Linked DNA regions of Homo sapiens. The protein of the gene in region 1 interacts with the protein of each later gene in a pairwise test. Each region holds a gene or a part of one and is shown in the gene's direction. Other genes may lie near its edges.

What was found.
Region 2: the proteins of HOXA1 (region 1) and VWC2L interact in binary tests that used the Homo sapiens proteins (3 or more experiments, as listed by UniProt).
Region 3: the proteins of HOXA1 (region 1) and LGALS13 interact in binary tests that used the Homo sapiens proteins (3 or more experiments, as listed by UniProt).
Region 4: the proteins of HOXA1 (region 1) and HSD3B7 interact in binary tests that used the Homo sapiens proteins (3 or more experiments, as listed by UniProt).

What each region holds. Positions count from the first base shown.
Region 1 is NC_000007.14:27,093,000-27,100,905, reverse strand, and holds the start of HOXA1 (homeobox protein Hox-A1), read left to right. Parts: upstream 1-4,905; 5' UTR 4,906-4,993; coding exon 4,994-5,645; intron 5,646-6,110; coding exon 6,111-6,466; 3' UTR 6,467-7,906. Other genes in the region: HOXA2 (homeobox protein Hox-A2), read left to right, coding at 1-180. UniProt on the Homo sapiens protein: Sequence-specific transcription factor. Regulates multiple developmental processes including brainstem, inner and outer ear, abducens nerve and cardiovascular development and morphogenesis as well as cognition and behavior.
Region 2 is NC_000002.12:214,435,038-214,442,056, forward strand, and holds part of VWC2L (von Willebrand factor C domain-containing protein 2-like isoform 1 precursor), read left to right. Parts: intron 1-1,591; coding exon 1,592-1,721; intron 1,722-7,019.
Region 3 is NC_000019.10:39,597,560-39,605,530, forward strand, and holds the start of LGALS13 (galactoside-binding soluble lectin 13), read left to right. Parts: upstream 1-4,964; 5' UTR 4,965-5,009; coding exon 5,010-5,024; exon of another isoform or gene 5,025-6,357; coding exon of another isoform or gene 6,358-6,465; intron 6,466-7,042; coding exon 7,043-7,119; intron 7,120-7,618; coding exon 7,619-7,829; intron 7,830-7,971. UniProt on the Homo sapiens protein: Binds beta-galactoside and lactose. Strong inducer of T-cell apoptosis. Has hemagglutinating activity towards chicken erythrocytes.
Region 4 is NC_000016.10:30,980,796-30,988,210, forward strand, and holds the start of HSD3B7 (3 beta-hydroxysteroid dehydrogenase type 7), read left to right. Parts: upstream 1-4,411; 5' UTR 4,412-4,502; intron 4,503-4,664; exon of another isoform or gene 4,665-4,857; 5' UTR 4,858-4,863; coding exon 4,864-5,029; intron 5,030-5,253; coding exon 5,254-5,409; intron 5,410-5,627; coding exon 5,628-5,736; intron 5,737-5,809; coding exon 5,810-5,909; intron 5,910-6,044; coding exon 6,045-6,207; intron 6,208-6,972; coding exon 6,973-7,388; 3' UTR 7,389-7,415. Other genes in the region: histone-lysine N-methyltransferase SETD1A, read left to right, coding at 1-54, 266-385, 2,840-2,977, 3,055-3,228. UniProt on the Homo sapiens protein: The 3-beta-HSD enzymatic system plays a crucial role in the biosynthesis of all classes of hormonal steroids. HSD VII is active against four 7-alpha-hydroxylated sterols. Does not metabolize several different C(19/21) steroids as substrates.

The sequences.
Region 1 (7,906 bases):
GAGGTCCCCTCTTTGCAGGACTTTAGCGTTTTCTCCACAGATTCCTGCCTGCAGCTTTCAGATGCAGTTTCACCCAGTTTGCCAGGTTCCCTCGACAGTCCCGTAGATATTTCAGCTGACAGCTTAGACTTTTTTACAGACACACTCACCACAATCGACTTGCAGCATCTGAATTACTAAAAACATTAAAGCAAAACAAAGCATCACCAAACAAAAACTCCTTTGACCAGGTGGTTTTGCCTTCTTTTATTTGGGAGTTTATTTTTTATTTTCTTCTTGACCTACCCCTTCCCTCCTTTAAGTGTTGAGGATTTTCTGTTTAGTGATTCCCTGACCCAGTTTCAAACAGAGCCATCTTTTACAGATTATTTTGGAGTTTTAGTTGTTTTAAACCTAACTCAACAACCCTTTATGTGATTCCTGAGAGCAGTATGAGGCCTGCAAGAAAGTGATCATATAATTGTATCTTCACTTTCTTTTTATTTTTGTATTACATTGGGATGCATTGTCATGCATATTTTTTGTAGAATAAATTCTCCTTTGCTATAAGTAGCTTATTTTTCTCCCCCTCTTTTTTCAAGGCTCATAACGGGTTCTTTTTCTTCTTTTAGTCTAACTTCGTAAATAAAATTCGTCACAATTTATCCTCTTTTTTCAATTTTAATACATTTATTAAGGCGGCATGTTCAAAGTCTTCAATGGACAGCAACAAAACAGAAAGCCAAAAAATGACTAGGGCTTCTAATAAGTGTTTTTTCTTTCTTTTTTGCTTCTTCTTCTCCTCTTTCTTTTTAAAGGATTTGATTTTCAGTGCACAGGTTCAAGCCATAGATTTAAATTGGTAATAGAGGCAGAATTGGACAGTCTAAGATTTGGGCCAAGCCCAAGCTCTTGAAAGTGGAGAAATAAAGTGCCTACAGAAACCCCCAACTCCAGGAATGAGTAACACGGAGTTTCTTTAATAAGCTACCAGTCTCCAGGTCAATAACTAAGTTATCAACAATTCATTTGTTTATACACTTTTGTTTCAAACACCCACATTTCAACCCCCTCCCCCATAAATCCCTCCACATTTTCAGTGTGGTTGATTAATCTCCCAGCTGTTGATGGGTTCAGGCAAAACAGACCTAAAAGATAGAGAAAAACAAAAATAAAACAAAACAGTGATTACTATCTGGAAAATGCACCCTAGAAAATGTTCTTTCCAATCCTCTGGTTCAGTCACTCTAGGATTTTTTTTTTTTTTTCAGGGTCAGAAAAATCAATATTTCATTCTTAAACCTGTTTACATTGCTAATAATAGATCGTTAATGCTTCGAAGTCAGGTTAGCAAGTTGAGATTTAAAATGGTGTGTTTCTACACCCTAGGTTATAAATTAACGCAGGTTCTAGAGAGAGAGAAAAGCACTTTAAATGAAATATCAATAAAATGTGATCTAGGGTGTGTCACTGGGTTGTTGCTTTTCCCCCCTCCCTTGTTAGGTCTCCCCATGTTTATTTTTCCCTTTCTGAGCTCTCTTCTGATGCCTACTTACTTACCGTGAGAAAACGCAGCATGTAAGCAACATGTGTGTGGGGCGGGTTGATTTAAGAACCTGGCTCTTAACAGCAAAGGCTTGGAAGTTCCAATGACAACGCGATGTTTCTTCATAGGTTTGCTCCCTACCTTCCCTCGCCCCTTCCTCCGCTAAATCTCAGCTGCGGCGGCGGAGTGTGGGGACTATGGCTGGTTTCTGGCCCCAAGCTCAGCGCGGAGCAGGGCGTCCCGGCAGCGGCCAGGGCTGCGCAGCTCCTGGATGCGATTCGTCCTACGCTCATAAATCAAACGCTTTCTATGAATGAGAATGTCATCAAAGAGATCAATTGCAGGAACACATGCACAAATAAAAATCCTCTTACGTTATTTGCCGGGGATCCCCGTCCGAAAGCATTAAGTTAGAAGGCGTTTAGTCATAATTCATTTTTATTGCTCTTTTAAAACAACAGCTTGGCTGAGCCGCGGATGCCATGAACAGTTCAGGGCCTCGGCGTCATTTTATCTCCTCCTTATTCCTTTCCTTTCTAGCATAAGAGCCCTGAAAGAGGCGTTTTGAGCCAAGAGAACCGCTTGTAGGCGATCATTTTAAGCGTAACCAAGCTCGCCTTTCACCCAGTCTCCCAAGGCGTTGAAAGAGACCAGCTCCAGTCTTGGGGCGCTGACCTACTTGCCTAGAGGGCCAAGGATCTCCTACTCGGTGGAACGGCCCCCAGAATTTCTTGGGGGAGGGGTGTGGGGAAAGAACTGAGCTACAGAAGCCTAAGGGCTAGAGGCCAGGGGAGGCTGCCTTTGTGTGCTGTTCCCGGGGAGCGGCGCTCTGGGCTGCCAGGCGAGGCATAGCCAGCCCGGCTGCGAGCACCCGGCCTGCGGGGAGCCGGGAACAGTAAGCGGAGAAGGGCGGCCGCCGGGCCTGTGTGTCTGCGGGCCTGTGTGCGAGTGCAAGCTCGTGATCCCAAGAAAAACACTCCACCCAGGATGCCCCAGAAAAGAGGCCAGGAGAGAAGAAGAGAGGCTGAGGGAGAGCAGGGCCGAGGCAGCGAACTAGCAGAGAGAGTGGCTCCTGCCGGGGTCGGCTTTGTGGCAGGCGCCCTGCAGCCGAGGGGGTCCTGCAAACCCAGGCTGAGGAGGGCAACCAAGGTACAGGAATGAGGCAGCGGGGGAAAATGTACCGACTTGCTCAGGCTTGGAGGGAGGATTGCTCGCATAGCCAGCACCGACCTACTCACATCCTGCCCCCTCTCCCACAGGAGCTCCTTCTCTCCCCGCCGCTGGAAGCTGGTGCTCCCAAGGAAGCCGCCTCCAGGAGGACTGCCTTGCCTTTCCCCTTCTCCAGTCGGAGGATTCCCAGGAGCCGAAACTGGGGCAGGGGTGGCTGCCCAACCCCAGAAAGTGGGCCTTTCCTGCCCGTGCTCCCTCTTAACCATGCTTGGGATGGATCAAAGTCACAAATACTATTCTGAAAGGAAATGTTTGGGGAGAATGTTTCATTGTTACTGAGGGAGTCCAGAGTCAGCATGGGTTTTTTCTCTTGAGAGGACAGGTTTGGGGGAACTTCGGTACGTGGAGAACAGAATACAGAAGACTGAAAGGGTGACTAACATATTTGAAATGTACCTTCCTTGAAAAAAAAAAAACCTTCCTTGTTCTAACGGGAGGAAAGGCTGAAGAGGAGTGGAAACCCCAAACCCACATACATTCATTCACTATAAATTTCATCTGATTCCAACATTGTACACATGGTTGGAGTAAAATTTATACAGCATTGCTTATAATTTATACAGCAAAGCTTCCTGGACAAGCTCTCGATTTCTCCTACCCAAGACTGCATCAATTCTTGGTCTCCGTTTGGCTTTTTCTCTCTACAAGCCCAGGGTTGACGTGAAACCTAATAGTAAACAACAATTTAACGACCTCAGCAGCCTCAGGGAAGTAGGGTGATGAGGAACAGGACCCCTGGCCTGGGATGAGGCTCAGATTTGCATGTGTCTCTCTAGGGAAGGACTTGAAGGTTCTCATAAGCAACTACACAGCCAGTTGGAAAGGGGAGGAGGTGTCGTTGGGGTAAAGTGTCCCGTCCACCATCAGCCATTTGTCCACCGCCCCTCCCACCTGCCAGCCCCCACACCCACTCTAGACGTGCAGCAGAATGAGGAAGGTTATAAAAGGAAGCTCTCTCTCTCTTCTAACATTCCCCTCCAGAAAAAGAGGAACGCAACGAAGGGAGTTCAGCTACTATGTTGGAGCTGTGGACCGGCCCTGTGAGGCCCACGCGGGAGCGCGGAGGCTCCTGGGTCTCAGGGCGCCGGCAGATGGCCTGCAGCGCACCGCCCGGCCCCCGCGCTGGCCACGTCCGCCAGCGTCATCTCTCTCCCCCGCCTCCTACCCCTAAAAATCCGGCGGTCGAGTAGCTCCGCATCCCGGAGGGCTCCCGGTGCAAAACTGAGTGGGAAAGAGAAAGGGGCGGAGAGCGACGAGAGAGGGAAGGTGGGGAAGAAGAGCCCGGCCGCCCCCGGCCTTTTCCGGCGAGCTCTGAGTTTCCAGGGCTCATCCGCCCCTCCAAGTCGAATTACAGAAACTCCTCATTGCCATGCTAATGACGAGAGGGGCTGTGGGGAGAGGGTTTCGAAGACCCTCCTGGAAGAAGGGAAGTTTCTTTTCTTGCCCTCGTCTCCTTCACGCCCACCCGAGTTCCTCCCAGCCAGCCCTCTGCGCTCTTCCCCCTCCATTCCGAGCTTGAAGAGCCGGTGGCCCAGCCTCGCCCTCCACCACGGTTCTATGCGCTCCTCACAGCCCCACGGTCTCCCAGCCCAGCCTCAGAACAGAGGAGGTGGCCTGGGAACCCGGGGCGCGGTGTCAGCCGGATTCCCCGCCTTCCGGCTGGGCGCGCTGCGGGCTGGGCCGGCGTACTTGCGGCCACCCGGCGAGCTCTGGCCCACTGATTCCCGCCCCGAGAGAGCCGGGAGCCCTCTTCCCTTCTCACCTCTCGCCAGTTCATCTTTCATTGAACGGTGGGGAGGGGGCGGGAGCGGGGGACGCCTCCCAGCCCCCACCTCCCGGAGGCCTGGCGGGGCGGGCAGCGGAGTCGGGCGCGCGCAGAACGCAGCTTTTGCTCTTCTTCGCTCCAGCACTCCAAATCGGCCTTTGCAGTCGCCGCAGCAGCTGCCGCCGCCTAGGCTGCCTGGGGGGGCGACTGCGCGTCACCTAGACGGCGGAGCGCCGGGGATTTAAATGCCACTAAAACGGTGATCCATCACTGCGGAAGCCGGCAAACTTTTGCAGGAGGCTCAGCCATTGGCTGACACCGTCACGTGCCCCTCCTCCAGCGTCCTCCGCCCTCCCGCCCCCCCTCTTGCGCACTGTACATTCATATCATTTTTCTTCTCCGGCCCCATGGAGGAAGTGAGAAAGTTGGCACAGTCACGCCGGGCTTCGCAGGACCAGGTCACTCAGTGACAGATGGACAATGCAAGAATGAACTCCTTCCTGGAATACCCCATACTTAGCAGTGGCGACTCGGGGACCTGCTCAGCCCGAGCCTACCCCTCGGACCATAGGATTACAACTTTCCAGTCGTGCGCGGTCAGCGCCAACAGTTGCGGCGGCGACGACCGCTTCCTAGTGGGCAGGGGGGTGCAGATCGGTTCGCCCCACCACCACCACCACCACCACCATCGCCACCCCCAGCCGGCTACCTACCAGACTTCCGGGAACCTGGGGGTGTCCTACTCCCACTCAAGTTGTGGTCCAAGCTATGGCTCACAGAACTTCAGTGCGCCTTACAGCCCCTACGCGTTAAATCAGGAAGCAGACGTAAGTGGTGGGTACCCCCAGTGCGCTCCCGCTGTTTACTCTGGAAATCTCTCATCTCCCATGGTCCAGCATCACCACCACCACCAGGGTTATGCTGGGGGCGCGGTGGGCTCGCCTCAATACATTCACCACTCATATGGACAGGAGCACCAGAGCCTGGCCCTGGCTACGTATAATAACTCCTTGTCCCCTCTCCACGCCAGCCACCAAGAAGCCTGTCGCTCCCCCGCATCGGAGACATCTTCTCCAGCGCAGACTTTTGACTGGATGAAAGTCAAAAGAAACCCTCCCAAAACAGGTCAGTCCTGCTGGTTGGTGGATGCTCCTTGATTATTCTGGAAGGAGCTGGTATGCTTAATTTCCAAGGAAATTAATAATGATCTTTTTTTTAAAAGGCTTTTGTATCAGACTAGTGTTGTAGTGCATGGAGAGGGTGCCCAGAGGTGTTGGGGCAAAGAAGTCTCAGGGATTGGTGTGTTTTCAAGGATTTTATACATTTGGGAAATAGGAAGTATGTGGGGGTGGTTATTGTGACGGTAGTGTTCTGTTAATATCTTGAGGCTCCATTAATCACCGGTCTGACCATGCTAATGGTTTACATCAGGTTAACACTTTACACCTCATCACTCACCCTCCACAGCCCGATTTGTGCTGAGTTCTTGATCTTTTCTTTACCTGAGTGTTGCCATGAAGCGTGTGGGGAATCTCAAGTCGATTTAAAAATTTTTACATTTCCGTCTCATGGCTTCCCACTTTGCCCCAGGGAAAGTTGGAGAGTACGGCTACCTGGGTCAACCCAACGCGGTGCGCACCAACTTCACTACCAAGCAGCTCACGGAACTGGAGAAGGAGTTCCACTTCAACAAGTACCTGACGCGCGCCCGCAGGGTGGAGATCGCTGCATCCCTGCAGCTCAACGAGACCCAAGTGAAGATCTGGTTCCAGAACCGCCGAATGAAGCAAAAGAAACGTGAGAAGGAGGGTCTCTTGCCCATCTCTCCGGCCACCCCGCCAGGAAACGACGAGAAGGCCGAGGAATCCTCAGAGAAGTCCAGCTCTTCGCCCTGCGTTCCTTCCCCGGGGTCTTCTACCTCAGACACTCTGACTACCTCCCACTGAGGCGGCTCCAGCCCCAGACAACAGCCCAGGCATCTCCTTGGGCTGGGACTTCTTACCCAAAGCACATGCTTAGCTTATCTTTCTTTCCATTTACAGTCTCTTTCTTCCTTTCTAATCCTATCTGGGGAGCTCCTGGCCAGGATAATATATTTGCAGATAATTCTGGACCAGAGACTTGGTGCGGGGTTAACACCTTCATCCAGATTGGGTGCCAGCATACATTTTCTGGTGGGCCTTAACATCCCTCCTGCTTTTAGGAGAATTCACAGAACCTACTGTTCCTTTCAGATGACCTTTTGGAAAATAGTTCCCTTTGCCAACAGAAACATGCCAGAAGGAATCTTCTCATCTTTTATCTAACTATATGTACAGCTCTCCCCTCCCTTGTCCTTGAAAGTAGGATATAGCGAAAGGCGAGTCCAGGAGCTCAGGAAGAAGAGATGCACTATATGTTTACACAATTAATTCATCCCTTAATTTAAGTCATTTTCATGTGTGTGAGTTTGCTGGTTGTAAATACTTTGTCCTAAGAGATTTATCTTTATACAGATTTTCTAGAAATGTTTAGGTTACTAAAACAGGGTGGGCAAACTCTCTAAACTGGTACAATTTTATAGGTGAAAGAAAAAATTCCCTCATTTAAACCCAATCAGATGCCTCAGAGGGTAGCCTTGATTTGTTCTTACAGTTAAGAAGCCCTGCAGAGCACAAACTTCAGAAACCCGGCTTCCTGTGCTAAGTCTTTCCCAATCTCTACCCCTTTCTTCTCGGGCCACCCTCTGTTTAAAATTTGTGCTGGGTTATTCAGAACCTAAAAGTATTATTCAAACCAATTTCTTCCTTCCACAGTTATCTTAGCTGGATATAATGTATTTTCAGCTCAATTGTTAATGTGATGGATGGCACAATGAATGTATATTTTGTGTTATTCGTGAATAGTCTTTTGCATGTCGCACAATGTTTGATGTCCCCAAAGTACCACACTGAGTTCTATCAGTTATCCTTTGTGAGCCTATGATATTCCCCATTTCCTGTACAATCATGAACAGCTCTGAGATCCTGGAGTGATATGATCCAGAGCAGAGTTTACGGGTCTTAGGATGTCTGTAATAAATAAATATACTCAAGTTTCAGGTATGCTTAAGCATCCGTGTATTTGGCTGGGCTACAATTTGTTAATTCCTATGAAGTTGGCACATTTCATGAGGGGAAAGGGAGAAGGGTGGTAAATATTTTCAAAGAGATGGGCCTTTTCTTGAATAAAAGTTAATAACAGCTCCTTTATTATAATCAAAGCTCATAATGGAAAAAAAGACTGATGAAGAAATTTATGAAGCAGATTTATTTTTGAAACAAACATGGATACTTCCTGGGTCAAGTGCTAACCTTTTCACCTCCAACTGGATGTTGACGTATATATAAACAGAACTCCCTTCAAAA
Region 2 (7,019 bases), on another chromosome or scaffold:
GTAATTAACCAAGGAAAGGGGAAAGTTCGACAAGTCTGCTTGGGAATTTTAGATATCACGATGAGGTTTGCAAAATAAGGAGCAAAAGAGCAACAAGAGTTTCCATCTCTTATTTGCTAATTTTCTCCATTAAATAATGTACTGTACGTTCTAATCTTTTTCTTAATTTGCTGAGATTATTTAGCAGAAAAGCATCAGAAAAATCTCAACCCTTGAGAATGCAATAGATTTCTCTGAAATGTTTAAACACAACTCACCACATGGTAAAGAGTTTAACTGTACCCTTCAAAAATGCCATTGATCATGTTAACAAATAGCCATACTTTACCACAGATCCCATGGCTAATTGTTTTGTTCATACTAAATTTGAAAGCAAAGTAATTTAAAGTTAGGCTGTCATTCTCCAAGCAAAAAGCAAAGACAAAATGAATTTTTAAAATAATTAGTTGAAGGGTTTCCACTATAGACTGTCTGAGTTGAGAAGCACTGATATTACACAGATTGTCAGATCCAGGGAAGAAATAAGAGCTGACAAGGGTTTTGGACAGTAGTCACTGAAACAAGGGAAGAGGGCTTTAATTAGCACAGTTTGCAGGTAAGAATCTGTGGCTTCAGATTGGAGGCAGAGCTTTCTAAGAACAAATGGCTTGATTTGAGAAATGTGGACATTGTATGACTTCTGACACCACCAAATTTTCATTCCAGAATTTTAAACTGCTGTTCCATGAGAAAAGTAGAGCTAGAACTTACAAAGGATGAGAAAGTCAGAGGGTGGCCCCTGCTTTAGATTATTTGTGCCATAGGCAGTTTCTAGAAAGGAAATAGAAAATTCTAAACACTCTCGGCCGGTAAGTACTGCAAAGACAAATGTTCTTTTCTGATGTTTAATTTTTTTCTCTTAATTATCATTTTTAGTTCCATTTTTAGAGTTTTTGACTCTTAAATAGTGGCTTTTTAGGCCAGTCGATTTGTTCATTCATAAAAGCAAGCAGGCAAGATGAAAGGTATTCACTACATCTTTCAAGAGGCAGTACCTGGATGTTTGGTTCCCAAATGCAATCTTCTCTAATATTCACATTGAAAAAAAAAATGCCATTTAGAGTCTAAGTTGGCTTGAAAAAGAGTTCATACAAAGGGTACAGATGTCCACTTACCATTTTCTTGTTTCTCAGTAATTCTCCTCCTTTCTCAAGAAGAAGAAAATGACAGATGGCAAAAATTATCTTACACGTTCCAGTAGAATGCCTGTTTACGAGAGGAGGTCAGAGCAATCAGTACATCTGGAAAACAAACCAGGAGATGACATATTAGTTATGCAAATATTTCTCTGGAAAGTAGGAACATAAGATATAGGAAAAGTCATACACGGGTGCTTTTCTTGTTCACAGCAACCTGAGTGCAGGTTGTAATCCACTGTGACTTGGGTGTCTAACTTGCCTTCCACCAAGGGAGAATGATCGTAGACATGGTAAATGGAATTAATACAGTAAAGCCAATATAATAAGCACTGATGTTTTGTCTTCTGACAGCATATGAATGTGCAAGCATTAAGTTATAGGAGAAAAGGGGCTAATTTTAGATTTGTTCCTAGCCCTCTCCATGTGAATGGTGTCGCTGTGAGCCCAGCAATGAAGTTCACTGTGTTGTAGCAGACTGCGCAGTTCCTGAGTGTGTCAACCCAGTCTATGAACCAGAACAATGTTGTCCTGTCTGCAAAAATGGTAAGACCACACTGCATTAGCTTTTGAAGAGGGGTTCGCACAAAATACAAATATTTCACTACTGCATACCATTCAATGCAAGACCCCTCTAAGATCTGCCTGTGGCTTTTCAATATGGGCATGGCGGATGTATATTTTTATCCCATCTTAAAGTGAAAATAAACCTGCAGTGGGTTTATTGTGCAGCTTTCCATCTGGGGAATTAAAGCTGTTGTAAGCTGACTTCGTTGTGATCCCTATTATTTCGTGTTGATTTAAAAGGAGTATATTGGAAAGAACACAGTACCATCCTTTTGTAGTGACTGCATTCCTCTCTTTTGTAGAGCCAATGAAGCAGTTCACCCCATTTTGTGGTGTATGACCCAGGATATAGGGTAGGGTAAATGCCAGGTATTTTGTTTTGAATGTAGATAAGACCTTAGGTTTAAAGTTAAATATAAAATTCAAGAAATATTAAATAAAATTAGCATTGCACTTAAATTGAAGTAATAAAGATTAAAAAGTTTAGGGCCTTTATTGTAGGTTTTTATTACAGTGGAACTGTGCTCTCACAGTAACTGCTATAGAGAGCAACTTGTTTTATTTACGACATTATAGGTTCCTTTTTGTCCCTCATGGAATGGAGAGGTTGAACCAACTATAATATCCTAATCACCCAAAATCAACATGATGCTGCAGAGAAGACAATGCAATGCTATAAACCCAAGATAGCGCATCAACAAAGCCAATAGCGCACTTTGCCTTATGACCATGTACTACCAAAAAGGAAAAAATAATTCTTTACTAGGCCACATTCCACAAATGTTCTGTCATTAATATCTGCTGGAAAAAGTGGTTCTAGCCCCTAATTAAGATAAGCTCACTCTTATGCTGAATTCCTATGCCTTTTCTTGAGTTGGCAATGGCCATCTTTCTCTATTATTTTTTGCTCTGAATTTGGAGCTCACCTACTAATCTTTTCCTTTACAGAAGGGTAATTAGTAAAAATAAGCATAAAGATATCTTTTACCTTTTATAAAAGATAAAAAAATATTTTTAAAAGATTTTTTAAGTAGCTCTGGTTATTTCTGATAATAATTTTTTTGTGTTTTGGTATCTTCCAAAGGACTTATTAAAAACCTTTGTGACATTTTCCAGATACACGTTTTGCTATTTCTGATCATATAAATCGATTAACTTGAATATTAAGTTGCTCATCTCGCTCCTCTTTTTCTTCTTATCTCCTTTCTCCAATCTACCTGTCATAGTGACCACTCTCTCACTTAGCAGAAAGAAATAACGCTCCTGAAGTTCTAACTCATCAAAAATAAATATATGCAAATATATTAAATTTAAGACTTTAAAATTTTAAAGGGACTGAAGAAACTGGAAAAGATACAAGAAAGAACAATAAGAGGATTTAGTGGTTGAAAAATAGGACCTATGAGGACAGACAGAAAGAGTTAGCATAATTTGTCCTAGAGAAGAAAGGCTCAGGTGAGACCAAACTGTCATAAAATATATGAATGGTGAGTCTAAAGTAGAAGAGAAAGTATTATTTTTCATTTTCTCCAAGGATAAAAGGAAGAAAAACTCAACTACCTAATCAATCTTTAAAAACTGGATTGACAGGTCTTGGACTGAAGACTGCACTTTTTTTTTTCTTTTTTTCCCCTGGAAGCAACTGTCTAAACAAGTCCTTGAGGCTCTTGCCTTCCCCACATGGCTCTGGTTAGCTTTGTCTTACTTTTAGCTTTGTCTCACAATTATGGTTATAGTTAAAATTTCTTGTCTAGACACATCCAGCATATTCATAGAATTAGAACATGTAAAGCATACGTTTAAAACAGTTTTTACACATGCATCTATCACATCCTTCTAGCGACCCTACACTAAAGCCCATAATATACCCAGAGTTAATGTCTATGTCATATGTTAAATCAGCCACTACAAACTAGTTACACTTAATTTGATGTCGCCCAAGATTATCCTATTTCTCTCAACCATGTCAGAGTAGAAATTTTTCTCCAAATGAAATCCTCTTTTTACAAAAGTGTATAATGAATAGACTTTACTTGTTCAATCAGTTAATTAATTAGTAACCACTAGTATTTCTGATAAACAGATGCTAAGTACACAAGGTATGTTAAGTTTTCTGATATTTTTTAAATCATGAAGCACTATGAAATGGCCACTTCTGTTCCCTCTTGGTACTTCCAAACAAATTTTCTTTTCTTAAATAAGGGAAATGAATCTGAATTTAAATTAGTGGAAGGACTGATTGTAATGTAACATTATGAGATGTTATCTTTTTGTTATTAAATGCCGCTAGTTAGTCACATATGCCCCAAAACTAAAGTATAATCATTGCCAAAGAAGAGTATATCAAGAACCAATGAAGACACGTATGACCACCAGTGGTACCAATAATTTTATTGAGAAGACAGACTGAGTCCCAGGTTTTGTTGGCTCTCATTCTAAGCCTAGCCCAGAAAACAGAAACAGATGAATGATATATAGAAGACATGGAGGAAAAATAAATGTTTATTATGACAGTATAACTGGAATAACTTAAGTTTCCAACACATGATTTAAGTCTATCTCATTATATATGGTTATTAACTATAACCATAATAAATATGCCCATTATAGTATAAACTATTTTAAATATAGTTGCTATGTCATAGATTTTTAAAAAGCAACAATAAGCTAAAAATATATACTATGGATTCAAGGTAGATGCAACTAATTCTAACCTATAAACAGTCATAACATTTTCTACATTTTCTTAAATCTTCATAAATGGTTATTTTGGCGGGCAAGTAATTTTCAGTTTGCATAAATGCTTATTATCTTGGCTGTCAAATACTTTGGTTTTTCATATTAAAATTGATTTTTCTGCCTTCCTGAATTACAACTTGCCAAAAGCATGAGGCATTAAAGTTATAAAACTTTTAAAATATGATTTAAACTTTATATTAAAGATATAAACTTTTGAATGTGATGGAATCCATCACACCTAACCTTATAACTCAACATTAAGCTAATATAGAAATATTTGTTTTGATATTATTTAAGAGCAAACAAAACAAAGAAAGATAACAATATGTATGTAGTTTTTCCGTAAAACTGTTTACCAATGAAAATAAACAATTATCTTTGGAAATAAATATTTTAATATTATAAAGTGCAGGGTAATCTACTCCCTAAACAATGGTACCATGTCTTTATTCTTGATAATATAATTTTAAGAATAAGTTTAAGAACATATATTTCCAGGAATTTAATTGTGTAAAGAAGAGAGTTTTAAATTTTCTTGTCTCAGTGATTACCATAAACAAGATTTTCAATGGTTGTCAATGACTATACCCAACAGTAATCTATTCACATTAAAATTAGTTCAGTACCAAGAACAGTCTATCGATTTAGCCTGAATAAAATAAAAACACTAAGGAAAGATATGAATGACTGGACAGAGTCTATGTAAGACACATAATAGGAGGAAAAAGATGAGAGTAATTTTTATTTGGTGAGAATTGGGGGGATTGACATAGGAATTTATTGTTTCTAAAAATATTATTAAGCATTTATTTCTCTTTCCTTTACACAGCTCCAAGAACTAGCAATACAAATGCCTTCCTGAAAAATATGACATTTTCAGACTGTTTTTCTTTCCCTGAGATTGTGTTACTTTGACCTATCTTTCAGCCCCAGGCCTTTCCATGTGAATTAATGAGCACTCTTTATGGATTTTTGTTTTTATGGTATGAAAAAAATAATTTAGCACAGCATCTGTTTAAAGAAAACATTATGGTTTGGAATGTCACGGCAATATTTCAAACATTGGAAACTGACCATAAATTTGACTAGTAATGTGGCTATATGTATATATTTTATATATATAGCTAAAAATACCTATCGTTTATTTTTGTATGTGAATTAATATTAATTTCAAACTCTTGCTCTGCAGCCACTCATTCCATTCTTCAGTTGTTCATACATTCTAATATTTTTGTCCCAAGTCATTAAGAATCCATATTTATAGAATGCTGAACATCTGCATTAAAAAATAAAATATGTAGTCAGTTATCAAAACATTTGATCATTGGAGCATCCAAATGACAGACTGCATTTTTTACATTTCATTAGCTGGTTTGTCAGTGAGTTCTGTGTTTTCACTGGAATACACAGTCAGTCATTATTCAAGGCTCAGAAGGAAATGTTACCCCATGAAAAATTTGAAAAGACAGAACGCTCCCACAAAATCCTGTACACACATTAAGTTTTCAGTTCCTTTCAACTAAATTAAAGTTGTCACAAGCCCTGTTCAAATATTTAATTCTATGTCCCTCACTCTCTTCTAGTTTAGTAGTGATGCAAATGGGCAGAAAATAAACTAGGCAAAGGGGCAAATATTAATAGAAAACAAGAGGACAACAGAGGGGATGAGCCATGCACAATAAGAAAGAGAAGGGACTTCACAGGCATCCAATACCTTCTAAAGGTCCTTGGGAGAACATATTTGCCAAATAAAATTGTTAATATATCTAATACACAAAGAGCTCCTTAAAATAAATAAGAAAGGAAAACGATTCTGCAGGGAAGGAAATGGGCAAAGAGCAAATAAAGGAAATTTACATAAGAAAATGAATTGTCTAATAAATATATAAAAAATATATAATAATCACCAAATGGATAAGGAGATAGAAATTAAAACAATGGGATGTCAATTTTTTATTGATGATAATGTGGGATTGATGGTGCCTCATATCAGCAAAAGTATTGAGAAGAGTTAAGAAAGAGTGGAGAAAATGTTATAAACTTTTTAAAAGACACTTTCTTTCAAAATGTTTGTATCCCTCAAAGTCAGCAGTTTCACCTTTTGTACTTTTTCCCACATTCACATACAAAATTTTCACCCCATTTTGAGAGTGAAAAGTTGGGAGAAAACCTAATAATTCTTCACTGGGATAATTAAATATATAACAGCCTTTTAAAAGACTACTGATATTTTTTACTGCCATGTAAAATAAAGCAAAAACTGTTTAGAAGAATACATATCATTTTGTATGTAATATAATGTATACTACATATCTAATGTGTACATTTTATGTTATATAATTTAAAATAAAATATGTATCTTATAATAAAATAAGATTTTTATTTTAAATAAGATACCTTTTTTTTTTTTTGAGATGAAGTCTAGTTCTGTCACTCAGGCTGGAGTGCAGTGGCACAATCTCAGCTCACTGCAACCTCCGCATCCTGGGTTCAAGTGATTGTCCTGCCTCAGCCTCCCAAGTAGCTGGGATTATAGGT
Region 3 (7,971 bases), on another chromosome or scaffold:
GGAACTACTGAAAGCAATACAATTACAGGAGGCAGCTCAGATTGAAGTCCAGCATCTTATCATCCAATTACTCTCAGATGTCCATGAGGAGACTACAAACTGTCAGGTGCACTTTCTCTCAAAATATGCACCAAAGGGATACATATTTGCCCTATACAAATCAATCACACAAGACTGAAACAGACAAAGGAAAATGCAGTTAACACAACTATTTTAGAGGGGCAAAAGATAACAAATGGCACCTTTTGCCTCATAGCACTCTGAGAAGCAAGAGGGGTCACCAGCAGCTCTACTAGAGCCACTTATGAAAATTCAGCCTGGGTTCTCACTCTTGTCGCATCTGCTCAAACCAGCATAGTCTGTTCCGGAAATACTACCTCAATGTGTGCCCCCAGTGTTTCCATAAGTACTTTAAAAACATACATTTCATTAAGTTGGACTAAGAGGTCTTCTTTGAATGGATAACCAAGGCATCCACACAACGAAAGAAACCGTGTTAGCTCTTTGTACATAAATTTAAAATTCAAACAAACAAACAAACAAGTACAGAAAAGAAAATAGACCACAGTCACGGTCCATATCACTGAGGAAACCAACAAGATCTCTTTTTTCATTTTCTCTGGGAACGTTTCCCTGCAGCAATTGGCTTCATCCTCCATTCTTAGCTTCTTGGAACTCCTACCAAGATGGCAGAATGACAGTCCTTTTTCCACTACAAGAGTTTTGATTATCTACTTCATAGTGCATATAGAGAACCATTTAGGAGAAGATAAACAACATATTTCCTAAAAGTCAACGAAGGATGATTGAAGAGAGTCTCATCAAATAGCCTTTTTTCTGCTGGGCCAATCTCAGGCATCATTTTGATCATCGTCATCCTCTCTCCCCAGGTTCATTGCCACAGCTTGTTCAACTCCAACCTTACTCATGGGTATGCCTTTCTCTGTACTGCTTCTTTAACCTAACATCTGGATACCTTGAGGTATCAATGCACAGTGAATTATGCTCTTCATGCCTTTCTTCCTTGTTTCTTTCCAGTATAAAATGAAATTTCCTCCCCTCTCATTGGAAACTCTCAGGTTCTGATTAGGTACACTCTCCTCCTTACACCATCCCTGTCACAGTCCTGGTCAATTCTGTATTTTGATAGTGGATTATAGGCTCCATCACCAGCATGGAATTCATTTGTTGGGGATTTAGGCAATTCTTTCTCTGAGAGGATGAAGACTATCCTGGAATCTATGACTTCCTGAGCAGAACATGAGTTTGATTTCATATCTGCTTGCCTCTGGATGACACCCATTTTATTTGAGTGGCCTACAGAGTCCTACATGCTGGCCTTGCAACACACACAGTGACTCCCATTTCTTGGCTGACATTCACCAGCTCATTTCTGTTCACATGGGCCATTTGTTACACTCATTTTTATCTCAGGTAATACGTTTTGCTCATGGTGGCCAGGATGACATCTCAGACACAAAGAGATGACATAGAATTCAGGAGCCAATGTTTAACAAAGAATTTTTGAATTGCCTCTGGGGACCTACTCAACATCATTTTCATACTCCTCAACCAAAATTCCCTATCTTCTCCCAGCAAATACGGCATGCTCAAAACACAGAAAGTCGTACTTGGACTCTAAAGCTTTCATTCTCAAAGGTATTTAGGCTTTTTAGTTTTTGTTGAAGCCTCCCAAGGAATAAATCTATTTGGTGATAATATTGTCCTTGTCCCTCAAAGCTGTTTCACTTGTGGTGCTGTCCGTGGTGCTGAGCATTGGTGCATTAGGCCCTGTATTTGAAAGTGAGGAGCCAATACGACAGAGTAAGAGAGGAATTTTGTTTTGTTTTCTTTTGTATTTGCTAGACCATAGACAAAACCTCCATGATGACTAAAACAGAAATTCAACTTGGATTTTCAAACCACAATTTCTTCAGTGCCCTCTCTCCTCACTTCTATTTAACATAATATTGGAAGGCCTGACCAGAGCAATCACGCAAGAGAAAAGAAGAAAGGGTATCTAAATACAAAGAGAGGTCAAACCATCCCTGTTTGCAGATGTCATGATTCTATATCTAGAAAACTCCATAGTCTTCACCCGAAAGATCCTTAAGCTGGTAAACCACTTTAGCAAAGTTTCAGGATACAAAATCAATATGCAAAAATCACTAGAACTCCTATATGCCAACAACAGCGACAGGGACAAATCAAGAATGCAATTCCATTCAAATTTGCCATAAAAAGAATAAAACACCTAAAAATACAGCTAATCAGGGAGGTAAAAGATCGTTACAATGAGAATTACAAAACACTACTCAAGGAAACCAGAGATGACACAAAGAAATAGAAAAACATTCCATGCTCATAGATAAGAAAAACCAATTATCATTAAGACAGCCATACTGCCCAAAGAAATTTAGATGCAAGGCTATTTGTCTCAAACTATGAATGACATTCTTCACAGAATTAGAAGAAATATTATTTTAAAATTTAAATGGAACCAAAAAAATGCCAAATAACCGGGGCAATTCTAAGTGAAAAGAACAAAACTGGAGGCATCAAATTACCCAACTTCAAAATATACTACAAGGCTACAGTAACCAAAACAGCATGGTATCGGTATGAAAAGAGACACACAGACCAATGGAACAGAATGGAAAGCCCTAAATAAGGCCACAAACCTACAACCATCTGGTCTTCAACAAAGCTGACCAAACAAGCAATGGAAAAAGGACTCCCTATTCAAGAAATGGTGCTGGGAGAACTGGCTAGCCATATGCAGAAGATTGAAACTGGACCCCTTCTTTACACCATATACAAAAGATAGATTAAAGACTTAAAAGATTAAACCCAAAACTATAAACATCCTGGAAGACAACCTAGACAATACCATGTGGGACATAGGCATGAGAAAAATTTCATGATGAAGATGTCAAAGGCAATTAGGAGAAAAGCAAAAATTGACAAACAGAATCTAATTAAACTAAAGAGCTTCTGTACAGTGAAGGAAACTATCAAGAGAGTAAACAGACAGCCTAAGGAATGGGAGAAAATGTTCTCAAACTATGTATCTGAAGAAGGTCTAATATCCGAGCATTTATAAGAAATTTCAACAACTTCACGAGAAAGAAACAAACAAACCCATAAAAAAGTGGGTAAAGAGCTTGACACAGTGGCTCATGCCTGTAATCCCAGCGCTTTGGGCAACCAAGGCTGGTGGATCACTTGAGCCCAGGAATTTGAGAACAGGCTGGGTAACATGGCAAAAACCCATCTCTACTAAAAATAGAAAAAAAAAATAGCCTAGCATGGAGACATGCACCTGTAGTCCCAGCTACTCAGGAGACTGAGCTTAGAAAAATCACCTGAGCCCCGGAGCCAGAGGTTACAGTGAGCCAAGATGGTGCCACATCACTCCAGCCTGAATGTCAGAGTGAGACCTGTTTTAAAACAACAACAAAAAAGTTGAGCAAAGGACACGAACAGACACTTTTCAAAAGTAAGGATACAGGTGGCCAAAAAACATATAAAAAAGCTCAATATCACTGAACATTAGAGAAATGCAAATCAAAACCACAGTGAGATACCATCTCACACCAGTCAGAATGGCTGTTATTAAAAAGTCAAAAAAGGACAGATGCTTCAAGGTTGTGGAGAAAAGGGAGAACTCACACATTGTTGGTGACAGTGTAAATTAGTTCACCCATTGTGGAAAGCAGTGTGGTGATTCCTCAAAGAGCTAACAATAGATCTACCATTCAACCCAGCAATCCCATCACTGGGTGTATACCCAGAAGAAAAGAAATCATTCTGCCATAAAGACATATGCACATGAATGTTCATTGCAACACTATGCACAATAGCGAAGACACAGAATGAACCCAAATGCCAATCAATGACAGATCGGTTACAGAAAATGTGGTACATGTACACAATGAAATACTATGCAGTCCTAAAAAAGAATGATATTATGTCTTTTGCAGGAACATGGATGGAACTGGAGGCCATTATTCTTAGCAAACTAATGCAGGAACAGAAAACCAAATACTGCATGTTCTCACTTATCAGCGTGAACTAAATGAGGAGGCTCATGGACATCAAGAGGGAAACAACACACACTGGGGCCTCCTTGAGGGTGGAGGATGAAAGGTGGAAGAGGAGAAAAAAAATAACTTTTGAGTACTACACTTAGTAACCAGGTGAAGAAATCATATACACCACAAATCCCATGACACGACTTTATCTGCATATGTACCCCGAACCTAAAATAAAATGAAAGAAAAATCAAATAAAAACAACAATCTCACCTTCCTCCCAGAATCTGCAGGAGAAACAGTGTCTCTGAAACTTTTATTTACATGGACACCAAGAGAAAGGAGAGGGTGTAGCTAGAGCCCAGGTGTGTGACAGTCAGGTGAGAGTGGCCCTTACCTGGCAGAGCCAAGCAGCCTAGTGTGGAATAGGTTCATGCAAGAAATTTCTCTGCTTCTCTCCACAGATCCTCCTGAGGATCAAGGTCAGTGCTCTCCCAGAACGTTCAAAAGCAGAGAGAATCATTACCTTCTAGGGCTAATGTATTTCCCCAAAATCTCCAACTTTTTTCTTTTCAGCCGTTGTACAAATTGGGAAAATGTACACTTTCTGGGTATATTCTGCATAGATGAGAAAAGGCTTGAGAGGCATAAAGGCTGGGCTTTACAACCACTACCGCTCACTCCATCATCTTTATCTATGCATTTCCCTGGTAACCCAATCCACAGCCTGGTAACTCCCCCACTGTCACTTCTGCTGCATTACAGATACAGACCTGCAAATAGCTATGGTTGTGACTGAGTTTCTTCCTAACAACTAAACCTGTCTAAAGCTGCAAGGAAATCTTGCTGGGAGGAGCTTGGAATCTGGAATGAAGCCCGAGGGCAAGGCTGAAGTGGGTCATTTAAATGCTGCAACTCAGAGATTCACTCAGAAGACTGGACTCAATTCTGAAGGTCGCCAAGAAGGAGAGAACAATGTCTTCTTTACCCGTGAGTTGAAAAGGCACAGCCTTCAAAAATTTCGTGTCACACAAACCAAGAAAGAAATGGGAGATTTTATGAGATGAAAATATGAGCATTTTTGCTGTGAATGCTTTACTTAGAGCTATTGAGGTGTGGAATAGAAACCCTGAGGCTATGGTATCTGAGATGCTTGTGGGGATTGCGGTGTGGACCCTGGACCAGTGTAACCTTCGGTGAGTGTGAGGTGGTGTCTGATGAGCATAAACTCTGCGGAGATAATGTGACTTTAAGTGGGAGGTGGATTACCCACCAGGACGAGCAGGTGTGTGAATGGAGAGTAAAGGGGTGAGTCGGCTTTGTTTCCTGTCTATGATGTGAGTATGTGTGTGAGCACAGCCAGACCAGTGCATGAGCATCGTTATGTGCACAGTGAGCAGGTGTGTGTGACGCAGTGAGTGGTGTGGCTCTGTGTGACTGTGAGTGTGTGTGCTGGGATGTGACTGTATGTTGAAGTGGGATCATGCATGTGGCTTTCTTCACATGTGAATGTTTCTCCCCACACAGCAGCACCTCTGATGTGAATCCCATGTGGCTTAACTGGTGGGGATCTTGGGGATTGTGAGTTACCAAGGACTTATTTCAGATCACTTGTGAGAGCAGAATGTATGATCAGTAGATGTCTCTTCCCAGTAAGAGTGGGGAAGAGGAATGCAGACTATGGGGGTGATGGTTCCTCAGGTGGGGTCTGCACAGAGTGACCACTGTCTCTTGCCTCCCAGGCTCAGCTTGCCTGTCCCTAGCCCATCCAGTTCTTCCCACTGTGTGACAGGAGGGTGTGCAGATACTGGTTTGTTAGGGAAGGACATTAGAGGCCGTGATTTCAGAGACTGAATCACACAAAATATCCACTGTAAGCTCTGTCTGAACTGAGACTAAACTTGTTCTACACCCATGAAAGAACAAGTTAAGTCTCAGTTCAGAAGGAGCTTACAGTGGATATTAATCAACCAAGCAGCTGGGTTCACTGGCTTATGGCTATAATCCCACCAATTTTGGAGGCAAAGATGAGAGGATAACGAGGCCAGAAGTTTGAGACCAGTCTGGGTATCAGAGTGAGACCCTTTCTTTAAAAAACTTTAAATATTTGACTGGCAGAGAGGCAGGTACCTTTCTTCCCAGCTATTCAAGAGGGAGCAGATGTGTGAGATTCACTGCAGCCCAGGAGTCTGAGGTTTCAGTGAACCATGATTGCATCCCTGCATGTCAGCCTGGGTGACAGAGCAAGAACCTATCTCAAAAGTACAGAAAAATCATCTCATCTACTTGTAGTCATCATAGAAATCAATCATTCCCTCCAGTTATGTCCCTGACCCACAAGCTTCATTTGTGCAAGTACTGGGGCTGTGCTCTCAGTAGTGTGTGCCCCTTCTTGGAAGGATGTCCATGGCCCTTGATGATAGTGATGCATGTGCATCCCACACACAGGGGTTTCCTGTTCTTTCATCATTTCCCTCTCCCTTTCAACAAGTGTTGTTTCTCACTGGAGTGAATGTTTAAATTCTTACATTTACAAGTCTTGTTTTAATTTTCAGAGTTGAAAATGAAGGCAGGTCAGTCTTTCAAGAGGACTCTCCTGTCCTGTTAGGTCACCCTAAGAGGCCCTACGCATGACAGGGATTAGGGTAACACTTTTACATGTATTAACTCCCTATTACGGAGAACATCCTACAAAGTAGAAATTCCTGATAATCCTCGTTGTCCTAGGGAAAATGAGGGAGAGTTCAAGTAGCAAATCTAAGACTGCACTGCTAGTAAAAGGCAGAATGAGGACTGGAATCCAGGCATCCTGGCTCCTGAACCCTTGCTCTAACTTATGGGTCCGCCATATCTTCAGGAATATGGGGCCCTGAATGCGGTAGGGTTAAAGAGGAGAGTCCACAGAGTCTGCCCTTTCATCTCCAACCTCCTGCACCATGAGAATATGTTACAGGAGGGGAGACTGCACCTGACCCTGCACCTCTCACTTACTCTCAATACTCTGGCAGGTGCCATACAAACTGCCTGTGTCTTTGTCTGTTGGTTCCTGCGTGATAATCAAAGGGACACCAATCCACTCTTTTATGTGAGTACTCCATGGTCCAATGGAGGGGTTGGAGAAGAAGGGAGAATATTTGCGAAGATTTGACCTTACATGTGGGTGATGTGGAAATGTCTAGTTGGCAGAATGGAGGCCCCATGCAGGTGCAGGTCTTGGAGACCCTCCAGCACCAGGCATGAGACCCACAGCAACTGCATGTGGGCCAGCCATGGGGCCTACAGGAGGAGAACACTCAGTGGGTTGGGGCTGTGGCTCTTTATCAGGGGGCATAGAATTTTCGGGAATGAACAAGTCATAGGCCCAGGTCAGTGACTGTGGCTCAGTTTTCATCTGGGGATGAGGAGCACAGAATCTCCCTGCCTGGGGGCATGAGGAGCTGAAGCATCCCCACAGGGACCTGGCCATCAGTATTATCTGGGAGACTTTTTCCCTAGGTAAATGGGGGAAGGGATTTGTGTGTGTGTCGAGTGTGTGTCTGCGCAAGGGAGGGACCTGCCCAACATTCTGCGTGCTTCACCCTCAGCAATGACCCACAGCTGCAGGTGGATTTCTACACTGACATGGATGAGGATTCAGATATTGCCTTCCGTTTCCGAGTGCACTTTGGCAATCATGTGGTCATGAACAGGCGTGAGTTTGGGATATGGATGTTGGAGGAGACAACAGACTACGTGCCCTTTGAGGATGGCAAACAATTTGAGCTGTGCATCTACGTACATTACAATGAGTATGAGGTGAGCATCCCAGGAGCTCCCAGCACCCAGGCTCTGTGGGCTCCCAAAACAGGAGGCAGCTCTCATTGATCTGGCCTCAGTAGTCCGTCAGGGTCCATCTCCCATAACTACTCCTGCCCCTGGTTTTCATCACAGAGCACCC
Region 4 (7,415 bases), on another chromosome or scaffold:
ATCGGTACCTCCGCCATCATGGACAGTGACCTGCTGAAACTCAACCAGCTCAAGGTGAGGCTGGGCTGCAGGAGGGGCTGGGTGGGGTGGGGTGGGGCAGGAAGGGGCAGAGGCCAGGGGACCACCCAGCAGGCTCCTGTGGTTCCCTCGGGTGGAGTTGGGGGGTAAGCAGCCAGAACACCCTCTGCCCAGGAAGTCTGTGGGAAGAGTGAGGGTCTGGGGTGTGGGAGGTGTCTGGCAGTTGAGTCTCCCTTCTGCCCCCCAGTTCCGGAAGAAGAAGCTCCGATTTGGCCGGAGCCGGATCCACGAGTGGGGTCTGTTTGCCATGGAACCCATTGCTGCTGACGAGATGGTCATCGAATACGTGGGTCAGAACATCCGTCAGGTGAGGCTGCACTCCCAGCCCCGCCCCGGCTTCTGATGCAACAAGACAGCATGGGGGCTCACACACATGCTGTTTGTCCGGTTAAAGCCTTGCACACTCCCTAACCCCGGTACCTAGCCAGTGAGACCAGCCTCCCTCCGGTGTGGTCAGCAGGTGTCAGTGGTCCAGCAGGAGGCATGGCTGATGGCACTGCTCCCTTTCTTTTTTTGTTTTGAGACATAGTCTCTCTCTGTTGCCAGGCTGTAGTGCAGTGGTGCGATCTTGGCACACTGCAACCTCTGCCTCCTGGGTTCAAGCGATTCTCCTGCCTCAGCCTCCCGAGTAGCTGGGACTACAGGCGTGTGCCACCATGCCCAGCTAATTTTTGTATTTTTAGTAGAAATGGGGTTTCACCATGTTGGCCAGGATGGTCTTGATCTCCTGATCTTGTGTTCTGCCTGCCTTGGCCACTCACAAGTGCTGGGATTAACAGGCGTGAGCCATCGCATCCAGCCAAGCGCTGCTCCCTTTCAAAGGGCCTGGGAAGCGGGAGGACAGGCACTGAACAAGTATCCACACAGAAGGATGGTGTTCCAGCCTGAGCAATATTGCCAGACCCCGTTTCTGCAAAAAATACAAAAGCTAGCCGGGCGTGGGGGTACATGGCTGTGGTCCCAGCTACCCAGGAGGCTGAGGTGGGAGGATCACTCGAGACCACGAGGTGGAGGCTGCTGTGAGCCAAGATTGCACCACTGCACTCCAGCCTGGGCAACAGGGTGAGACCGTGTCTCTAGAAAAAACAAAAGCCAAAAGGATGGCATTTGGTATTAACAAGATCTTAACAAGATCTGGGGAGTTGGGCTATGGGAACACACACCTGGGGGGCCTAAGACCTTCCAGAGACCATGGTGCTTGAGTAAAGCTGAAAGGAGCTCGCAGGCCCAGACAAGTGGTAGTGTGTGTGCGCTTGGTTGCGAGACACCATGTGCACAAACCTGGAGGCACGGTCGTCTTGTGAGAGTGTGGAGGTCAGCTTGGCTCATTAGAAACCAGGGCCATGGCCAGGCGCGGTGGCTCATGCCTGTAATCCGAGCACTTTGGGAGGCTGAGGCAGGCAGATCACCTGAGGTCAGGAGTTCGAGACCAGCCTGGCCAGCATGCTAAAACCCCGTCTCTACTAAAAATACAAAAATTAGCCAGGCGTGGTGGCAGGCGCCTGTAATCCCAGCTACTAGGGAGGCTGAGGCAGGAGAATCGCTTGGACCTGGGAGGCAGAGGTTGCAGTGAGCCAAGATCGCGCCATTGCACTCCAGCCTGGGCGACAGAGCAAGACTCCGTCTCAAAAAAAAAAAAAAGAAAAGAAAAAACAGGGTCAGTGGCAGCGACGTGTGGCTGGAGGGAACAGAGAGCCCAGACCGCACGGGCTTGGGAGCCTGTGAATCCACTTGGGCCTGTGGTGAGAGAGGAGGAAAGTCCCGGAGCTTTCTTCAGGAGAGGGTCCTTCCGCAGGAGAGGGTCCTTCCGCAGGAGAGGGCCCCATGGCTAGTGAGCTCCATGTCTAGGCTGACACCAGTATCCAGGCAAAGGCAAGGGTGGCCCGACCCAAGCAGTGGCAGCAGAGGTGACAGAGAGGAGGCTTTGGGTGCAAGGTGGTTGGCTGGGCTCAGCAGTGAGAGGGTGAGGGGGACGGGAGGCCCTCTCTCGGTGCTGCTCTTAGCTGCTGGGAGTATGATGGGAGGGCCAGTGAGATGGGTGTGAGGAGGAAGAACAAATATATGGTCAAGATGAGCTCCAGTCTGGACATGTGGGGTTGCAATGCCCCAGGGACATCTAGGGGATGACGCCCAGCAGCTCCACTGAGGTGGCTTTTGGCTGGAAATGGAAGTTTGGGAGGAGTCCCCACCACATAGCTGGCGGCTGAGGCTCTGGAAGGGAGTGAGGTCACCCGAGGAGGGCGTGCAGAGGCTCCTCACTGTCTTCTGGGAAGTAAGGGTTGCTCCTCACACGGAGGTGCGGGGCCTGACATGGGCGGCCTGCCATTTGCATTAGCCGGTGGCAGCCAACAGGTGCCTGTTTTGGAGAGAGGTCCAGGGAGGAGAGATGAGCAGGGTGCCGTTGGTGACATGGCCAGTCATTTCAGGAGCTGCCCCAACCCCAGACTTGCCCCAGCAGTCCGGGACCCCACTGTGACCAGGCAGATGCTCGAAGGAGTCAGTGGCTCTCTTACCCAGTGCAGATTTCCCTGGAGTTCCCTGCGGGTGACTTAGAATGGCCACCAGAGGCTTAGGATGCTGCCCCAAAGAGGGAGGGCTCCTGGAAGCAGAGTCGAGAGAGTCAGTGCCGGGTTAGCGGGAGCTGGAGGCAGAGCTGCAGCTCCAGGCCTGGTGGGCGTGGACCTGGGGTGCTGGCTGGCAGGCGTGCTCAGGGGCAGGAAGTGGGGGACTCTTCCCTGACCATCGCATCTCACCCTGGCAGATGGTGGCCGACATGCGGGAGAAGCGCTACGTGCAGGAGGGCATTGGCAGCAGCTACCTGTTCCGGGTGGACCACGACACCATCATCGATGCCACCAAGTGTGGCAACCTGGCCAGATTCATCAACCACTGCTGCACGGTGCGCCAGGGGCCAGCCGGGGCAGGAGTTGGGGGTCGGTGGGGGTGGCCACGGCTCACACGCCCTTCCATCCGCAGCCTAACTGCTACGCCAAGGTCATCACCATCGAGTCCCAGAAGAAGATCGTGATCTACTCCAAGCAGCCCATTGGCGTGGACGAGGAGATCACCTACGACTACAAGTTCCCACTGGAAGACAACAAGATCCCGTGTCTGTGTGGCACAGAGAGCTGCCGGGGCTCCCTAAACTGAGGTGGGGCAGGATGGGTGCCCACACCCCTATTTATTCCCCCTGGTGCCCTGAGCTCCCAGCACCCCCCCAGCCTTAGTGGGCTCAGCAGGGCCCACATGCCCCCATCTCCAAGCGTGGGGTTGGGGGCCCCAAGCCCAGCGAGGGAGCCTCAGTCCCTGGAGGCAGCTTCTGCCTCTCCTGTCACCCCTGCCCACCACCCCCTGATTGTTTTTCTTTGCGGAGAAGAAGCTGTAAATGTTTTGTAGCAGCCAGCAGCTGTTTCCTGTGGAAACCTGGGGTGCCGGCCTGTACAGATTCTGTCCTGGGGGGCTACACAGTCCTCTTGCTTTGTGTTAATGGGGACTTCCCCTTACGCCCTGCGTGTACCCCTCCCCAGTTTAGGGGTCTCTGGGGCAGTGGCCATGTTCTCCCCCTGGGGGGGCTCTGCACCCCCAGTCCTGGGGACTCCGTGCCTGGAACCCTGCCTCATCTGTTCCTGCCAGACCCTGAGGGTCACCCTTCCACCCTGGTGTCACTCCCCGGCTCAGCCAGGCCAGGATGGCGGGGTGGGTCCCTTTTGCTGGGCTGGACTGTACATATGTTAATAGCGCAAACCCGACGCCACATTTTTATAATTGTGATTAAACTTTATTGTACAAAAGTGTTTGGTCGGTGTATTTGGGCAGGAGCGAGGGGTTGGGGGTAGAGGGCACGGAGGGTTGTGCAAGTTGAAGAGAGGGAAAAGTGGGTACCTGAAGTGTGGGGCAGGTAAAGGGGCCTTCAGGCAAGAGCCCAGACCTGCAGAGACAGTCCGAGACTGTCTCGGACCCCCTGACAGGCTGCAGCAGCCGCACCCGCACCAGGAATACCCCACCAGTGCCCGCCAGGGTGGTGCCAAGGTCAGGCCTCCCCTTCCTACAATCACAGCTGCAGCTGGACCTCCGGCCTCCTGGGAAGCCCAGCAGGAGGGAAGGCCTGAGGTCACACTGTGGGATGAGGTCACCGCTGGCTCCACCCACAGCCCCAGACCCCTTCAGCCCACTCTGCAAGTTCGAGCTTCATCCCCACCAAGTTCTCCGCTGGACCCAGATGCCAGTGGAGCACAGAGCGGCCGCCAGGGGGCGCCTTGGGGCAAGAGTGGTGGGGGTTGTGGCTGGGCGGGTCTCTGTTCCTGGAATGGGGCAGGAGGGAGAAGGAGGAGCCAGCGGAAGGACGGTGTGCGGGCCGGCCAGCCCTGGACGAAAGAAGAGGGCCCCTCCAGGCCAGTCTGGGCACCCTGGGATAGCGGCTGCAGGTAGGCAGAGGCGCTGCCAGTGCCCAGGTGGCCTTTCCCTCCATCCGGCCCTTCCCACCTTCCTATAACCTTCCCTCCACCTCCCTCAACTCCTGGCCTCCCCACCCTTTTACTGCCTTCAAATCTCTCTCCCTAAACCCTGACCCCTTCCTGCACCCCAAGCCCGCCCCTCTCTCCGTAACTCAGCCATCAGCAGGGGCAGACGGCAGGTGGCCTGGTTGCTGCAGCTCCCAGGATCAGCTCTGCCCTCCCCGCAAACGCCAGCCTCGTCACCGCTCCAGGGCACCTCCAGCAGTAACAGGTGGTTGCAGCAGGTGGCAGCCAGCCCCTGGATGAGCCAAGGTCTCTTCCCCAGCCAGGCATGGCCGACTCTGCACAGGCCCAGAAGCTGGTGTACCTGGTCACAGGGGGCTGTGGCTTCCTGGGAGAGCACGTGGTGCGAATGCTGCTGCAGCGGGAGCCCCGGCTCGGGGAGCTGCGGGTCTTTGACCAACACCTGGGTCCCTGGCTGGAGGAGCTGAAGACAGGTTCTTGTTGGGGGAGCTTGTGGTGGAGAGGGTGTGGACGCTTCCCCAACCCTTCCCAAGCTGGGATCCCCACCCCTGCAGTGGAACAGATGATGCTGGTTTCTGTCCACATGGATGGGTCGAGTGAGTCACATTGGGAACGTGACTCCAGGGTGGAAGATGAACCCAGCCTCTGGCCTCTGGCCCCAGCTCTGACATGGCCTGTGTCCTCCAACCCCGGCCAGGGCCTGTGAGGGTGACTGCCATCCAGGGGGACGTGACCCAGGCCCATGAGGTGGCAGCAGCTGTGGCCGGAGCCCATGTGGTCATCCACACGGCTGGGCTGGTAGACGTGTTTGGCAGGGCCAGTCCCAAGACCATCCATGAGGTCAACGTGCAGGGTGAGGAGCTCTGGACACTCCTGGCCATCTTGCCTGTTTGTTCCCCACTCTGTCTTTGGCCTTGACCTCCGGTGACTCCCCTGGGACAAGTTGTCCTATTGACAGCCCTGCCCCCGCCTCCCCTGACCTGTCATGGTTTTCCCTGGACCTGGGATGGGGAGGAGGAAGATGCAGAGAGGGAAGAAGCTGCAGCTTGGATACGCCTCCTCCTCTGCCAGGTACCCGGAACGTGATCGAGGCTTGTGTGCAGACCGGAACACGGTTCCTGGTCTACACCAGCAGCATGGAAGTTGTGGGGCCTAACACCAAAGGTCACCCCTTCTACAGGTGAGTGGCAGGCCCTCTTGTCCTCTAAGAGCCCATTTCCCTCAGCATTGAGTCTTCCTTCTCCTCCCACCAGGGGCAACGAAGACACCCCATACGAAGCAGTGCACAGGCACCCCTATCCTTGCAGCAAGGCCCTGGCCGAGTGGCTGGTCCTGGAGGCCAACGGGAGGAAGGTGAGCCCAGAAAAAGGAGGCGCAGAGATGGGGCTCCTGCCCTGCACACCCCCTTACCCTGCCAGCCCAAGGAGGCCGGGGCCGAGAGCAAGCTGTCGGGTCCCAGGTCTCAGCAGTACCTGCCTTTGCCACCAGGTCCGTGGGGGGCTGCCCCTGGTGACGTGTGCCCTTCGTCCCACGGGCATCTACGGTGAAGGCCACCAGATCATGAGGGACTTCTACCGCCAGGGCCTGCGCCTGGGAGGTTGGCTCTTCCGGGCCATCCCGGCCTCTGTGGAGCATGGCCGGGTCTATGTGGGTGAGGACTGGGCTAGGCAGGGGGAGGCTGAGAATATGGCAGGAGGACTTGCTCTAGAAGGGGGCAGGACCCACATGGCCCTGGGAGAGAAGTGTGGACTCTGGCTAGAAAAATATGGTCTATACATGGGCCAAGGTAGACTGTGATTATGTCTCCACAGCCTGCAGAGAATACAGGATCCATGCAAGTTGGGACATTAAAAAGTGTATCATAGGCTACAGAGAAGATTGCAGCTATGGGAGCAGCCATTCCCCAGGAGAGGAGAGGAGAGGGACAGTGTGTACACAGCACTAAAAGGGCTGGGTTCAGTGGCTCGCATCTATAATCCCAGCACTTTAGGAGGCTGAGGCGGGAGGATGGCCTGAGCCCAGGAGTTGGAGGCTGCAGTGAGCTATGACCGCACCACTGCACTCCAGCCTGGATGACAGAGACAGACCCTGTCTCTAAAACTTTTTTTAAAGGAAGTAGCATCTACACAGGGAATAAGGTCACCTGCCACTCCATCCTGCAGTCCCCAAGCCTCTCAGGGCCCACCACGCAGGTCCTGGTTTCTCTATCCTCTCCCCAGGTTCTTTGCAGATGCAGGCTGGCCCAGGAGAGCAAGTGACTACCAGGGCGAGGGAGAAGGCAGCCTTTCCCAGGCTGCTGTGGGGATGTGGGCGGCAACTACCTGGGCCCAAAGAGGGGGTGGCCCAGGAGAGCAGCCTCGATGTGGTGTTGCAAGGGCACTCAGGGGTGTGTCCGCCTCTCTTCCGCCACCGGCAGGCAATGTTGCCTGGATGCACGTGCTGGCAGCCCGGGAGCTGGAGCAGCGGGCAACCCTGATGGGCGGCCAGGTATACTTCTGCTACGATGGATCACCCTACAGGAGCTACGAGGATTTCAACATGGAGTTCCTGGGCCCCTGCGGACTGCGGCTGGTGGGCGCCCGCCCATTGCTGCCCTACTGGCTGCTGGTGTTCCTGGCTGCCCTCAATGCCCTGCTGCAGTGGCTGCTGCGGCCACTGGTGCTCTACGCACCCCTGCTGAACCCCTACACGCTGGCCGTGGCCAACACCACCTTCACCGTCAGCACCGACAAGGCTCAGCGCCATTTCGGCTATGAGCCCCTGTTCTCGTGGGAGGATAGCCGGACCCGTACCATTCTCTGGGTACAGGCCGCTACGGGTTCAGCCCAGTGACGGTGGGGCTGGGGCCTGGAGGCCCAG